Linked DNA regions of Homo sapiens: regions 2, 3 and 4 are each reported to be linked to region 1. The links are microRNA targets in miRTarBase. Many come from high-throughput screens and were not tested one by one. Region 1 holds a microRNA gene; each other region holds the end of a gene's coding sequence.
The links. Region 1 holds the annotated microRNA hsa-miR-6787-3p (UCUCAGCUGCUGCCCUCUCCAG, at 1,417-1,438, shown strand). A microRNA usually pairs through its seed, bases 2 to 8, with sites in the 3' UTR of a target mRNA and lowers its output. Matches are read on the target gene's strand: a 7mer-m8 pairs with bases 2 to 8, a 7mer-A1 pairs with bases 2 to 7 and ends in A, and an 8mer does both.

Region 2: miRTarBase lists RPS15A as a target of hsa-miR-6787-3p. Seed matches in the 3' UTR shown: 7mer-A1 at 1,895-1,901.
Region 3: the mRNA of BAK1 is a reported target of hsa-miR-6787-3p. The part of its 3' UTR that is shown has no 7-base or 8-base seed match.
Region 4: miRTarBase lists CD84 as a target of hsa-miR-6787-3p. Seed matches in the 3' UTR shown: 7mer-m8 at 2,799-2,805, 7mer-A1 at 1,740-1,746, 8mer at 1,692-1,699 and 8mer at 1,333-1,340.

The regions. Positions count from the first base shown.
Region 1 is chr17:82,235,291-82,239,348 of GRCh38, forward strand. MIR6787 (microRNA 6787) reads left to right here and starts at 1,378; the gene lies at 1,378-1,438. It overlaps SLC16A3 (solute carrier family 16 member 3), which reads left to right. Exons shown (of 5, transcript NM_004207.4): 2 at 693-941; 3 at 1,439-1,582; 4 at 1,848-2,603; 5 at 3,412-4,058. The coding sequence starts at 719. The coding sequence ends at 3,686. It also overlaps a transcript of CSNK1D not described here. RefSeq lists enhancers at 955-1,144, 1,969-2,740, 3,511-4,058.
Region 2 is chr16:18,779,614-18,783,671 of GRCh38, reverse strand. RPS15A (ribosomal protein S15a) reads left to right here. Exons shown (of 5, transcript NM_001019.5): 5 at 570-2,377. The coding sequence ends at 663. Among named protein-coding and RNA genes, the nearest start is that of RPS15A, 8.7 kb to the left of the region's middle.
Region 3 is chr6:33,571,356-33,574,355 of GRCh38, forward strand. BAK1 (BCL2 antagonist/killer 1) reads right to left here. Exons shown (of 6, transcript NM_001188.4): 5 at 2,679-2,859; 6 at 1,197-2,552. The coding sequence ends at 2,448. Among named protein-coding and RNA genes, the nearest start is that of BAK1, 7.4 kb to the right of the region's middle. RefSeq lists an enhancer at 62-351.
Region 4 is chr1:160,544,363-160,548,420 of GRCh38, forward strand. CD84 (CD84 molecule) reads right to left here. Exons shown (of 7, transcript NM_003874.4): 7 at 1-3,959. The coding sequence ends at 3,894. The region is part of intron 1 of CD84-AS1 (CD84 antisense RNA 1); the gene reads left to right. Among named protein-coding and RNA genes, the nearest start is that of CD84-AS1, 9.3 kb to the left of the region's middle. RefSeq lists an enhancer at 3,909-4,058.

The sequences.
Region 1 (4,058 bases):
ATCCAGGGACAAGGGGCCAGCTCTGCCCCCACTTCCCCACCCCACCCACTCTAATACTGCAGCCCCTGTGCTTCCAACTGCCCCCTCCAGCCTGGGGCCCAGCCCCTCACCGCCAGAGACTGCCCGCCTCCTCTTGGGCAAGCTCCTGGTGGGCTCCACTGAAGCCAAAGTGGGCCCTTGGGGGCAGGAGAGCCAGAGCAAGGCACGCTCCACCTAGATTTAGACCGGGAGAGACCTGGAGGATGCCAACCCCAGAGGTCCTGGGGCGAGCTCAGTGCTGGGGACCGGAGGTGCCGTCTGCTGCCAGAATCATGGTGTGCGTGGTCCCTGCCCAGCACGGGTCAGCCAGAGCGAGCCAGGGCAGAAATGACGGCCAGGTCGATGTTCCTGTCGGGGGCTGCTTGTCCCAGGAGGTAATCTGAGTCCTGGCCGAGCCCAAAAAAGCCACTGCCCTTTAGAGCCAGCTGTGAGGGTGCAGGAGGCAGTGCAGAGGGAGTGGGACCCACAGCTGCTAGCCTCCCTCCAAACCCTCCTGCCTCCACCAGACACCAGGTCAGGGGGCCACAAGTGTGGGTGCCGGGCAGCTGCCCCTCAGCTGAGCTGCCGGGCCACCCAGCTCGTGTCCCTCCCCTGCCAGGCTGCAGCTGGGATGGTCACCCGGGCAGCCTGAGTCAGCCTGCTTTCTCTCTCAGGTGAGGCGGAACCAACCCTCCTGGCCATGGGAGGGGCCGTGGTGGACGAGGGCCCCACAGGCGTCAAGGCCCCTGACGGCGGCTGGGGCTGGGCCGTGCTCTTCGGCTGTTTCGTCATCACTGGCTTCTCCTACGCCTTCCCCAAGGCCGTCAGTGTCTTCTTCAAGGAGCTCATACAGGAGTTTGGGATCGGCTACAGCGACACAGCCTGGATCTCCTCCATCCTGCTGGCCATGCTCTACGGGACAGGTGAGGGTGGCCTCACACCGGGCCCCCTGTCCGGGGCTCTGCTGGCGGATCCTGCTGGGCGCGTGTAGCTGGGCTCAGCAACAGGGCCTTCCGCCTGCTCCCCAGGGAACCCTGGAGGGAAGCCCTTGGGGCCAGGATCCTGCTGGGCAGCAACATGCTCTCCACGGGGCCAACCCAGGCAGGGCGCGAAGTCCATCCTGGCCCCTGTCCAAACGGGTCGGCTGTATTTATAGACCGTCTCAGAGGACAGGCTCCTGAGAGCCGTTCCTGAAAAGGTGGCTGTTCCTGAGCTGCAGGGACCCAAGGGGCCCAGCAGGCGGCGCTCACGTGTCATCATGGCCTGCGCTCGGGGAGCCTGCCCACGGGGTGCCCCTGGTGCCCCGCGGGGGGAGGGGTGGTGTGGGAAGGGGAGGCCGGCTCCAGGCTGTGAGCTCAGTCGGCTGGCGGGGGTAGAGCTGGCTGCAGGCCCGGCCCCTCTCAGCTGCTGCCCTCTCCAGGTCCGCTCTGCAGTGTGTGCGTGAACCGCTTTGGCTGCCGGCCCGTCATGCTTGTGGGGGGTCTCTTTGCGTCGCTGGGCATGGTGGCTGCGTCCTTTTGCCGGAGCATCATCCAGGTCTACCTCACCACTGGGGTCATCACGGGTGAGTGGGGCCGGCCGGTGGGCCGCACGTGCCAGGAGGGGCAGGGGCCGTGCACTTCTGCTCCTGGGTCCAGGCCTCTGGAGGACAGCAGGGCGGGTGGCTGCGGGGTGTCCCGGCCCCACCTCGTTGTCCCCCTCTCGAGTGGGTGGGTGGCAGGGGCTCTGCACCCTGGGAGCCTGAGCCTGTGGGAACCTGGGGGCAGAGATGAGGGTCTCGGGCTTTGGGGCAGCCTTGGGGGGCTCTCACCACATTCCCTTTCCTCCAGGGTTGGGTTTGGCACTCAACTTCCAGCCCTCGCTCATCATGCTGAACCGCTACTTCAGCAAGCGGCGCCCCATGGCCAACGGGCTGGCGGCAGCAGGTAGCCCTGTCTTCCTGTGTGCCCTGAGCCCGCTGGGGCAGCTGCTGCAGGACCGCTACGGCTGGCGGGGCGGCTTCCTCATCCTGGGCGGCCTGCTGCTCAACTGCTGCGTGTGTGCCGCACTCATGAGGCCCCTGGTGGTCACGGCCCAGCCGGGCTCGGGGCCGCCGCGACCCTCCCGGCGCCTGCTAGACCTGAGCGTCTTCCGGGACCGCGGCTTTGTGCTTTACGCCGTGGCCGCCTCGGTCATGGTGCTGGGGCTCTTCGTCCCGCCCGTGTTCGTGGTGAGCTACGCCAAGGACCTGGGCGTGCCCGACACCAAGGCCGCCTTCCTGCTCACCATCCTGGGCTTCATTGACATCTTCGCGCGGCCGGCCGCGGGCTTCGTGGCGGGGCTTGGGAAGGTGCGGCCCTACTCCGTCTACCTCTTCAGCTTCTCCATGTTCTTCAACGGCCTCGCGGACCTGGCGGGTTCTACGGCGGGCGACTACGGCGGCCTCGTGGTCTTCTGCATCTTCTTTGGCATCTCCTACGGCATGGTGGGGGCCCTGCAGTTCGAGGTGCTCATGGCCATCGTGGGCACCCACAAGTTCTCCAGTGCCATTGGCCTGGTGCTGCTGATGGAGGCGGTGGCCGTGCTCGTCGGGCCCCCTTCGGGAGGTGAGCGCTGCGCCCCCAGGCAGTTCCCCACACCTGCCCTTCCCGTCAGACGCCCGCTTTGCGAGGGGGGGGACGCGCACCCCTCGGCAGCCACCCGCAGTGTGGGACTCAGAGCTGGAGGGGGTGCACTGTGCTGGACCAACCCTGATTCTGCTGGGGCTAGCGGGTCTCCATTAGGAGTGGGGTGCTCCGTCCGGCACAGTGTGTCCAGACAGGCAGGGTGGCTAGGGGCTGGGCCCGGGGGGGGGCAGCTCCTCCAGGCTCTGCCTGGGCACCACGCGGCAGCTCCAGGCAACCCAACAGCCGGCTTTTGCATTTTGGGGCCTCTCCTTTTTGAAGGATGACTGAGCTAACACGTGAGGGAAATTAAGTTCTGACTGGAGCAGCCTTGCCCAGGCTCCGCCTGCCTGGCGAGGGGGTCCTGGGCTTGGGGAGGGCTCATGTCTTGGAGTCCGCGGTGGCCAGGGCACAGGGCTGGTACTGAACACAGTAGGGCTTCTGGGGCTGCCGACTGGAAGCCTCAGGGGGACTCCGTGGGGACCAGCGTGACTCCTGCCACCAACCGAAACCCAAACTCCACAAAGCCATTGCTATTTTTAGCCTCTTAAGTCTTGGTTCCCCTGAGGAGGAGGGAGGATGCCCCCAGCTGAAACACATGGAGGGGAGAGAACACCTCCCAGCCCCACAAGCTCAGAGGCAGACAGGGTGACCCTTGCGTGCTGAGACACCGAGACACAGGCTTGGGTGGAGCCGTGGGCCCTGGGGGCAGCCCGCATGAGCGGCTGGGACTGACGGGGTCTTCCCGCAGGCAAACTCCTGGATGCGACCCACGTCTACATGTACGTGTTCATCCTGGCGGGGGCCGAGGTGCTCACCTCCTCCCTGATTTTGCTGCTGGGCAACTTCTTCTGCATTAGGAAGAAGCCCAAAGAGCCACAGCCTGAGGTGGCGGCCGCGGAGGAGGAGAAGCTCCACAAGCCTCCTGCAGACTCGGGGGTGGACTTGCGGGAGGTGGAGCATTTCCTGAAGGCTGAGCCTGAGAAAAACGGGGAGGTGGTTCACACCCCGGAAACAAGTGTCTGAGTGGCTGGGCGGGGCCGGCAGGCACAGGGAGGAGGTACAGAAGCCGGCAACGCTTGCTATTTATTTTACAAACTGGACTGGCTCAGGCAGGGCCACGGCTGGGCTCCAGCTGCCGGCCCAGCGGATCGTCGCCCGATCAGTGTTTTGAGGGGGAAGGTGGCGGGGTGGGAACCGTGTCATTCCAGAGTGGATCTGCGGTGAAGCCAAGCCGCAAGGTTACAAGGCATCCTCACCAGGGGCCCCGCCTGCTGCTCCCAGGTGGCCTGCGGCCACTGCTATGCTCAAGGACCTGGAAACCCATGCTTCGAGACAACGTGACTTTAATGGGAGGGTGGGTGGGCCGCAGACAGGCTGGCAGGGCAGGTGCTGCGT
Region 2 (4,058 bases), not on the chromosome of region 1:
GTATTCTCACTTCATGGTTGCTGTATTACAGGTACGGTATTCTCACCAAAATCATTTCTCTTTGTAATTATGATACTGATTTTAATGCCGCACATTTGCATACTATATGCTTGTTACAGTGATCCCCACAGTAACTCATGAAGCAGCCACTCATTGTACAAATGAACGTCTCCATATAATAGTTTAGCTATTATACAGTACATGGCAGAAACACAATTCAAACTCAAGTTTATACGAATACTTTCAAGTCTCCTTACCTGAGAGCAGAAAGTGACATTTAAATTTAAAGGAGTTCCCAGCCTTTGTTTTCAGTGCAGTTTGTTTCATGGTGTAGGCAGAAGTCAGGGCTGTGTGATTGTGTGGCTGGGCTCTCTGGATTTGGCTCTTTGGGTTGCAGGAGTCATGGCTCATACGCTACATGAGGCACCAGCTCATGTAGGCACTGTCAGTTCCTATGTGCCCCACAGGAAAGCGCCCTTAACCACTGATGAGTGTTGATGTTTTTCTGCACTAGAAGGCACTATGTTGAACTATTAAACTTACCAGCACTTTCTTTTTCCACTCCATAGTTTCATTGTACTGACAACCTCAGCTGGCATCATGGACCATGAAGAAGCAAGACGAAAACACACAGGAGGGAAAATCCTGGGATTCTTTTTCTAGGGATGTAATACATATATTTACAAATAAAATGCCTCATGGACTCTGGTGCTTCCACTTGGTCGTTTTGAGCCTTTACAGCAGTGTAGCCACAGCTTCTGCGGCAGCATGCAGTTGCTTCGTTTATCGGTGAATGCGATTCCCTGAAGTGACTAATACAGCCAAGGGAAAAAGTTCTTATGAAACCAGTATGCCTAAGAAACAGTCACCCCTGCTGTCTGCCAAAACCAGGTATTTGACACTAAATATTTTAGTTGTATTTCAGTTTTTTTTTTTTTTTTTCTTTTTTGGAGACAGAGTCTGACTCTATTGCTCAGGCTGGAGTGCAGTGGCGCGATCTTGGCCCACTGCAACCTCCACCTCCCGGGTTCAAGTGATTGTCCTGTCTCAGCCGCCTGAGTAACTGGGATTACAAGTGTGTGTCGCCACATCCGGCTAATTTTTATATTTTAGTAGAGACAGGGTTTCGCCATGTTGCCCAGGCTGGTCTTGAGTTCTGGGCCTCAAGTGATCAGCCTACCTCGGCCTCCCGAAGTGCTGGGATTACAGCCACGAGCCATTACACCTGGCCTATATTTCAGTATTTTCTATTAGTTTTTGATGAATTTGTTTTGCCTGGCTAGGATTATTCTGTAGATAGGATTTTAGATCTGGCTTTTGTCACTGACTGCTGTAATAAATACTTGCTAGGAATTTTTTTTTTTTTTTTTTTTTTTTTAAGACAAAGTCGCTCTGTCACACAGGCTGGAGTGCAGTGGCATGATCTTGGCTCACTGCACCTCCGCTTCCCAGATTCAAGTAGTTCTCGTGCCTCAGCCTCCTGAGTAGCTGGGATTACAGGTGTGTGCCACCATGTCTGGCTGATTTTTGTATTTTTAGTAGAGGTGGGGTTTCACCATGTTGGCCAGGCTGGTCTCGAACTCCTGATCTCAAGTGATCTGCCTGCCTTGGTCTCCCAAAGTGCTGGGATTACAGGTGTGACCACCACGCCCTGCCTTAAGAATTGTTCCAAGAGAATCTGGTGCCACTTGCAGGTGCCCATTGAAGTGCAATGGGCACTGTTGATCACTGAGGAGGTAGTGGGTGCTGACCCGGTGCTGGGGCCTGTCCCCTAGTCTCTGCTTTGCCCTTGGCTAGCTAGGTGGTGTGCCAAGTGGGGAGAGAAGCTACCTTATTAAGGGGCATGGATCAGCTTCCTGAAAGGAGGGCCTGCCTCTGTAAGATATGGGAAGTCGCTGAGAATGTTACAGAACGGCCCTAGAGATGGGGCAGATAACGGCCCCCATTTGTGAGAAGTGAGTTGGGAGGCATGTTTGGGGCCTCTGATGTTTGGGAGGCTGTGGGTAATTAACATGAGTTTTGGGGTCCAGCAGCAGAATTCAGGTTTCCTCTTCCACTCAGTAACCTCAGCATCCGTATCTGTAATGGGAATGATACAAAACCTATCCCCAAGTTGAGGGAAAAATGAGATTGTGTAAAGCGCACTTGGCACATGACAGTCACAAGCATGGGGACAGTGAGTCCAGAAGGATTTTCTTATGCCAGCATTGTAAGCCCTAGGATCACAGGGCTCTGGCTTGTTTAACCATCGTGTCTCTGGTCCCTAGCCTGCAAACCTGGTGTGTAGGGATGCCTCAGTCGCTTACATGTTGATTGAGTGAATCGTCGGTTTCTTTCTGGACACTGACTTCAAAAATAAAATAGGATATGAAAATGGCTCCATTTGTTGTCACCATTTTGTGGGGATCCTATGTCCTTTGAAGTGGTCAGGAGTGGGAGAAACGTGACAGGGGAAGAAGGAGTGGTGTGGCTGATGGATTTAACATGTGTTCTTTTATGTTGGCAAGGAAGCGGATGACCTTACCCCTTGTTCCTCAGATCCTGTAAATGGCTTTATAACATGACCCAGGGCTGCTTGGTGTGGGACTAGACCCCAGGGTTTGAGGGTCTGAAGACAATTTAGGTTCGTGCTGGCAGGATGTCTTGGCTCAGAGACAAGTATTTCTGTGGGGTGATCCCAGCATCCTCCCAGCATACTGCTGCTGTTGCTAGGCAGAGACCCCGGAGTGGGGAGAGGGTGATAGCATCTGGATCATCCATTCCTACCTAGGTGGTTTTGGCTCATAGTAAAAGGGACCCAGCACCTATCCGCTGCTCAGCCTCGGAGCTGCAGGTGTCAGGGATATGATGCACTGTCCAAAAAGACATGCAAAACTTAACACCCCTGCATTTTCATGGAGAGACCCCGTGGAGCCTCTGACCAGAGGCTGAAAGAAATGTGTCATTCAAAAGACCAGGGAACCACTGCCAAGGACCCCTACATTCAGCAACACATCTATACTCGTGCCTGCCACGTGTCCTCACTTAGAGGCTATTGTCTCACCTCAGGGTCAGGAGTGCCAGGTGAAAGAGCACACAGGTCTCTGGGCAAGGCAGAGTTTGAAGCTAGGTCTGGACCAACGTCTGAGAGGATGACTTCACCCCAGGCGAGGAAGTTCACTTTGAGCTCCTGGCCAGGGAGAAAGCAAGCTCTGGGAGACCTAAACTCTGAATCTCACTTGGCTTTTCAGTCTAATCCGTTGTTGCCAAAGACATACTTGGCAATCCCGAATCCTCAGAGGGCTCCATACGTGCTGCGCTTCAGCCTTCGCTCACGGTTCATCCCACCTGGAATGCCTTTTTCTCTCCAAAGATGTTCCCAAGAGCCAAGTTAAATGTCACTTCCATTTATCTTCCTCCAAAAGGAACATGTGTTTTACTTCATCTTTCTCCTAAAAATGTGGAAGCCTTAATGAGACTAATAATGGTTGTTAGTGCTTGCCAGGCGTGGAGCTAAGAGTGTTACATATATTATTTAATCTGAGCAATCCTGCATCATGGGTACTATTACCAGCTCCAGTTTTTTTGAGACGGAGTCCGTTTTGTCGCCCAGGCTGGAGTGCAGTGGCATGAGTTCAAGCGATTCTTATGCTCCAGCCTTCTGAGTGGCTGGGACTACCAGCACACATCACCACGCCCGGCTAATTTTTTTTGTATTTTAGTAGAGACAGGGTTTCGCCGTGTTGGCCAGGCTGGTCTTGAACTCCCGTCCTCAGGTGACCTGCCCGCCTCAGCCTCCCAAAGTCCTGGAATTACAGGCGTGAGCCACTGCGCCTGGCCCAGCTCCAGTTGTTCAGGTGAAAAAGGTGAGGCACAGAATTGGAAAGCCATTTGTCCAAGAGGCTAGGAAGTGGTCACGTGAGCATTTAAATGTTTTTAAGCCTCAGCCTACTCCAGGCCCTTAGCGTGTTTTGTACTGCGTTTTCCTGGTCTTTCCCAGTGTTTATTAGATGTCTATAGTGTCCAGACAATGTTAGGCAGACGGGACACAAGGGTGCACAAACAAACAGTCTGTGCCC
Region 3 (3,000 bases), not on the chromosome of region 1:
CAGAGGCTGGAGTGGGTGCGCCCCAAAGGCCCCGCCCAAGGAAGGGCACGCTTGCGTGCTCGCGGCGGCGGCCATCTTGGACTCGGGCAGCCGCCCACTTCTAACCTCTATGGCATCGCTCCGGGAGGGAGGCGACCCCGCACTCTGGGCCTCTTAAACCTGTGCTCGCGAGCCCCACATTGCTCTCCGGCCTCCACGTAAAACTCGAGCCAGTTTCCTGGTGGCAAGTCCTCACTCCTTGGGTGACTCTGAGAAAGCACCCGTTTCCTTATCTGTAAATAGTAGTTTGAGTACCCCCACCCCCGTCTCCTACCTATTATTTGGGCAGATGATGAACTCTCAGCATAAAGCCTGGCACACAGTATGTGTTCTATAAATGTTGTCTGTGAGCTTTTCCTGTACACTGCGGGGTGCCTTGTAGCAACCACCTTCCAGCCACCACTGCCTGCAGCGCCGCCTTTTCCCTTTTCCAAGATCGCGTCTGTACTAGACTCTGAAGACCTTGTGGAGGGAAAAGGGGCTTGGCAAGCCCACCCCAGGAGGGTGAAGGTGAAACTCACGAGTTCTCTTGGACTTGCATGTGACCCTTTTGGAAGGGCGTCAGAAACACAGACCAGGGTGCCCAGGACTGGAAAGACTGTAGATTTTGGAACATTTAAACGCCCCCATGCTTGTTATTTTTATCACCCCTGGCTGGGTACCCATAGGGACTCCCAAGCAGCATAAAACTAGAATGAAAGCCCTGCGTGTGTGCTGACTGTGGAGACATCAGGAAGGGGGAGCTGGGACATTGTGTCCCAGGCAGAGCTAAATGTGGGGGAGAAGGGCCTTTTGGACCAGCGTGGGTGGTAGCCCCAGGGTGGGAGAAGAATTCAGCCCAGGTCAGAGGTAGCCTGTGGGGGTCCTCAGATATGTGCAGCTGCTCCACCAGCTCTGTAGCTAAAGGACCTCCCAGACTTCCTAAAGGGTGGAAACTGCATGAAACCCAACGAGATGAGAGAAGTTCATGGGGAGGGGCGAACGCCTTCCATCGGAGTGGGGGCTGCAGAACCATACTCAGGCCTCTATGGGATTCTAGAGGCCTAGTGTGAGGTTTTATTCAGTAATAAGCCAGATGTATGCCAGGCGTGCCCAGGTTCCCACAGTCTGGCCTGATGGAAAGAGGGGTAGCAGAGAATACAAAAACTAAGTCAGGGTGAGGGGATTGCACAGTTTATTTCCAAACACTCAGAGGATAGGGGGTGGCCTATGGGCTCCATCTGCCTCCCCTCCCTGCATTTGGCTGAATCAAGAACTTCTCCCCCCTGACCCCCAAGACCCTAGGCTGTGCCCAATAGAGAAGGCACTGTCACCCCCCACCCTGAGGAGACCTAGACAGGTGAGGAGCATGGAGGGTGGGGGAACAGAGTTCAAGTATTCACAGTTCCCCCATCTACACCCCTGGATTACACTGTGCCAGAGCCATGAGGGAGGATCCCACCTCTGGGATTCCTAGTGGTGTTGATAGTCCTTCTCCCACTTAGAACCCTCCAGATGAACTCCCTACTCCTTTTCCCTGATATAACAAACCAAGTCCTAAGCCCTGTAGTCTGGGCAAGGAGGAGCCTTAGCAGGCCACTCACCCAAGGCCCCCAGGGATGGGGGTGAGAGCCTTCACCTGTAGTGAATGGGTTGGGAGCAAGTGTCTATAAGGAGAGAGGAAGGGAGAGAACTGAGAGGACCTTGGGAGGCAGGCTTGGAGGCTTCTGACACGTGAGTTCAGACAGCTCTGGTCTGCGACTCCACCCCACCCCACACCCCAAGCCCAGAATCCCTGAGAGTCCAACTGCAAAGGCAGTATGGCCGGAGGGAGGAATGGGAGCAGGGGTAGAGTTGAGCAGGACCTTGGCCCCCCTCTCCTAGTAGGTCCTGCTCCTGGGACACATGCTTAGGGACGGCCAGGACCAGGCTCAGGTCCTAGTCCCATCTCTTAGGGTGCTGATCTTCCAGAATAGCTGAATCCTGGGGAACATAGACCCACCAATCCCCACACCCCAGACGTCCTGGCCTCAGGTAGAATGGTGGGAATGGGCTCTCACAAGGGTATTATAAAAAGCTAAAACCGTTAAACACTTTCTGGGGAGAAGTGGCTCCCAGTCTCTTGCCTCCCCAAGTTATCAGTCTCCCCAGCGCCTAGCAGACAGGGCTAAGGAGGTCCCAGAGAGCTGAGGGAGGAGACGGCCACAGCCCCTGGGCCCAGAGAGAGGGCCCACTAGCACCATGCAATGTTGAGGTGCCTCTGCAGCCTGACTGGCCCCCACGCAGGGGCCCTCCGAAGCTGGAGTGCACACTTGCTAAAGCTTCTGTACTCTTGAGGGGGGACCCCTGCAAGGGAACAGAGAAGGCAAAGACTTCGCTTAAGTCCAGGCAGGGGTCTGAACCGGGACCCCAAAGGGCACCCTTGGGAGTCATGATTTGAAGAATCTTCGTACCACAAACTGGCCCAACAGAACCACACCCAGAACCACCAGCACGTTCAGGATGGGACCATTGCCCAAGTTCAGGGCTGCCACCTGCCGGGAGAAACAAGGTGGTCACAGAGAGGCTAGCAGAAGATATAGGAACCCGAGGAAGGGGTGGGGCCTGGGAGAGGGGCAGCCCCAACAGCAGGGAGGACATTGCAGTCCTTGGATACTCACCCAGCCACCCCTCTGTGCAATCCACCGGGCAATGCAGTGATGCAGCATGAAGTCGACCACGAAGCGGGTCACCTGGCCTAGGAAGCCAGTCAGGCCATGCTGGTAGACGTGTAGGGCCAGACGGTAGCCGAAGCCCAGAAGAGCCACCACACGGCCCCAATTGATGCCACTCTCAAACAGGCTGTGGGCAGAGCATCCCATAGCATTGGTGGAGAGCCCCCAGGAAGCCCTTCAGCCTGCCTGGCCTCTCCCACCCCTCTCCCAGCTGGAAGCTAAATAGCTTAGCTGTGAATTAAGGCCGCAGAGGCTGCCCCAACCTGGC
Region 4 (4,058 bases), not on the chromosome of region 1:
GCTGGTCTCGAACTCCTTGTGATCCACCCACCTTGGCCTCCCAAAATTCTAGGATTACAGGCATGAGCCACTGCGCCTGGCCTTCAAGCTTCATTTTACAATCAGTAGACACTGTCACTAATTATTGAGAAAATTTATACAAATCAAGGGAAATTCAGAGAAAAGTCAAACAGAAGAAAAATAATGAGTCTGGAAGAAAATATAGCCCAGCCATTCCTTCTCTCCAGGCAGGACCTAAGAAGTGCTCTCTGTGGACACGGCCCAAACCAGACAGGCCCCTTCCTGCCTGTGCCCGATTTCCAAGCTGGCCCAACCAGGCTATTCCCTCATAGCCTGTGTAGTTTACAGTGTTCTACAGATTTTTTAAATCATATTTTAAACAAGCTTCACTTTCTTCTTCTAAGAATCATGAGCTGCAACATTCCTCATTTTCTCAGTTGAGTCCCTCAGTAAAGCCCAAGGTGTCTGCAGGCAGGACTGTCCTAACCTACTAGAACTTTCCACCAGAGGGCTCTGTCTCTGAGACTTCCATTTTGATGCACATTTTTAAAAACTGGCACACTTTGGTCTGATACAAGATCCTGTTCCATGATGCTTTGATTTTATAGACCTCTTGGTCACAGTCTAGTTCATCTGGAAAGTTGTGGAGGGGAAAATAAGATCACATGCATTTTACAGAAGGAAAATCTAAGAACTAAGACCTAGAGAGAAGGGTGAACAGATAACGTGTTCATGAATCAGGAGATTCATAGCAGAGAAACTGAGAGGAGAGACAAGAGTAGGGTGTCCTGAGTCCAAAGGCTACCTTCAGAATTCCTGGGCTCTGGCTTCATCCCAGGTTTGCTCTTCTGGAAGACCTAACAGATCTAACCTGCTTCTGATTTTTATTTTTGACAATATGCATAGGGGCATTAGGACACTAGTAATTTTACTTGAGTGAGCATATTAGGAAGAGGAAGAGGGCAAGTTAGAGAATAAAGATGTTTGGGAATGAGTCTTCAACGCATCCACAGAGTGAGGAGTGGTTTTATTTTAGGATAAACGCAGCCTGTTCAGTGTCACTTTGGAATTCCTCCATCCTTTATGACCAAGCCTCTTTCCTCCTTCCTGCACGTCTCTTCTTGGGGTGCTGTCTTTCACCTCCTTACAACTGGTTAGGTGCTTCAGCTGACCTCTTAGTTGGTCTGCCTAACTCTGAAAGTCTTCTCCCTCCAAAGTGCCTTTACACTAGGAACAGCCTCTGATGTATGCATCCTGATATTATTTTATTTTATTTTTATTTTTTGAGACATGGTCTCACTCTGTTGCCCAGCCTGGAGTGCAGTGGCAGGATCTCAGCTCACTGCAACCTCCACCTCCCAGGTTCAAGCAATTCTCCCACCTCAGCCTCCCAAGTAGCTGGGATTACAGGTGTGCACCACCACGCCCAGCTAATTTTTTTGTATTTTAAGTACAGATGGGGTTTTGCCATGCTGGCCAGGATCCTCTCAAATTCCTGACCTCAAGTGATCCGCCCACCTTGGCCTCCCAAAGTGCTGGGATTACAGGCGTGAGCCACCGTGCCCAGCTGCATCCTGATATTTAATGCTTGCCAGAATTTGATTGCACCATGCTTATTGGCTTCTATCTTTTTTTTTTTTTCGAGATGGAGTCTCACTCTGTCTCTCCCAGGCTGGAGTGCAGTGGTGTGATCTCAGCTCACTGCAACCTCCACTTCCTGGGTTCAAGCGATTCTCCTGTCTCAGCCTCCAGAGTAGCTGGGACTACAGATGTGTGCCACCACACCTGGCTAATTTCGTATTTTTAGTAGAGATGGGGTTTCACCATGTTGGCCAGACTAATCTCGAACTCCTGACCTCAGGTGATCCGCCTGCCTTGGCCTCCCAAAGTGTTGGGATTACAGGCGTGAGCCACCACCCCAGCCGGCTTCCGTTTATCTGTAATTCCCACATGTACAATGTAGTGAGGAAAACAAATAATTAGTTATGCTGTAAGGCTGAATGAGATGAGTTTTAGTGATAGAAGGACCAAAGAGGAAAAAACAGCAGTGTGAAAAGATCCCTGATTAATTTTGATTCCTGATACCAGGGAAAGCTTTACAGAAGAGGTACCTTTTGAGGTGGGCATTGAAGGACATGTAAATGGACATGGGGTGAGGGCACACATCTGGCTGGGACACTCTGCCACACATAGGCAAGGGACTGTGAGCATGCATGGTGCATCTGGAGAGGTGCTCTGAATACACCCCACTGATCCAGGCCCCTGCTCATTTTTCATGCTTCTCTCACTTGGAGGCCCTCTGTCTTCCTCATTCTCTATCCAAATTTCATCCATCCTTCAAGGCCCAGCTTCAGCCCTGCCCCCTCATAAGGTATTTTTCTGACTGTTCATGCTATTACTTGCAGCTGCAGTTCAGCGTTAACTGTAGTGTCTGTGCTGGAATTGTCTCCTGAGCTACACAAGAGCAGACATTATGCACATCTTCTACTTTGGGGCCTTGCAGCTCCTAACATAGTGCTAATGGTAGTTGGTGCTAGATGAGTCTATGGATTCATTTACTGGGACTGATGTCTTTATCTGCCTAATTGCAGCCCATTGCTGTCCAGCCTAGGACTATTCATTGGGATTTAGGAGTTAGCCGATTATACTTGCTAACACATAAGGGAAACACTTCCTTAAATGATCATATGAATGTCTTGCTCAGTTGTGAATGATTCTTCCTCATTGAGGAGAGTTAATGCCTGTGTAAGCTGGCTGGTGATCTGTTTGTGGGGCATGCCAGGGTGGCGGCACTCTGCCTCAGCTTAAACTCTAGTTCTCTGAGTCTTTGGAACTGGGATGAACCCAGTTTCATCATCTGCACCATCATCTCCCAAGTTCCTTCTGGAGAATGACTCTGCTTCTTGCAAGGTCTTCTATTTTGATGGTTGGATTATACCCAGTTCCCCAGAAGTGTGAGAAATATAAGCTGGTCAGTTCCTTTTGGAGAGTGGGAATACTGGGCATGGCTGCTTCTTCTGCTGAGGCTGCTTGGAGTGATACAGAAGGAAATCTTGGCCAGAAAGAAAATCCTATAAGGCTTCTGAAGTAGCACTCCAAGAAAAGTGTCCCAGCAGTCTCTAGACCCTGCAGAAAGAACATTTTCCAACACTCCATTTGGAGAGTGTGTCTACATGGCTGAGAGCCACAACTCTGACAGAGACCCACACAGCACTGTCATCTGTGTTTGGACTTACTAAGCCTGTTATGCCCTGCACAAAGATTCCCAGACAAAGGGATGAGTGTGCTTATATGCAGCCCACATTCTGCTCTCCAAGCCATGCACTCGGGGGAAGGGCTGCATCTGCCTCAAGCGAAGGGTACATTTTCCTAATTTGCTCAAGATGCGTGGTGAAGGCCACGCACCAGGGATCTTCACACATACTGACTGTGAGCAGAGCATCTTGGCTGGTGTGCCATGGCCTATTACAGGTGTGCAAAATATTGATCCCCTTCTCCCACAGTTACTGGGCAGGGTTGTTACCTCCAGTCACAAGAGGCCTCTAGTCATATGCAGCTTCCAGAAGTGAGCAATCTTGCTTGTTTATCCCAGTGTGCCATAAAAATATTATTTTCTACATGTGCTATGATGGGAAGAAGTTTGGGAAAACTATACTAGGTAACCTGCTTTGTCATTCATTCAGAAGGGAGTCATTTCAGGAAGGGTATGCATCCATTTGTCCATTTAGGCACAAGCTATGCCCAGCAGAAGGTTTCCTGCTTTGCTTACAGGCTGAGATGTGGCAGTTTGCAATCTCCCAGTAAGAGTTGGGCAGAGAAGATCTGGATCCAGGGAACCTGCCAGTATTGGTGGTTGTAACTCAGTTTCCAGAGGGAGAATTCAGCCCAGCAGCCTAGATCACAATTTCATAGCTTGAAGTCCCAGGAGGTTTACTGTCCTGTGTGCTGGCTTTCCCCATCTGTGCAGGAGAGAAGCGTGAGAAAATGTTAACTGAGAGGTGCTGCTGGGGAACTCCAGTCCTGCAAGTTCCCAGAGGAGTTAAGCAAATGGCACGGGG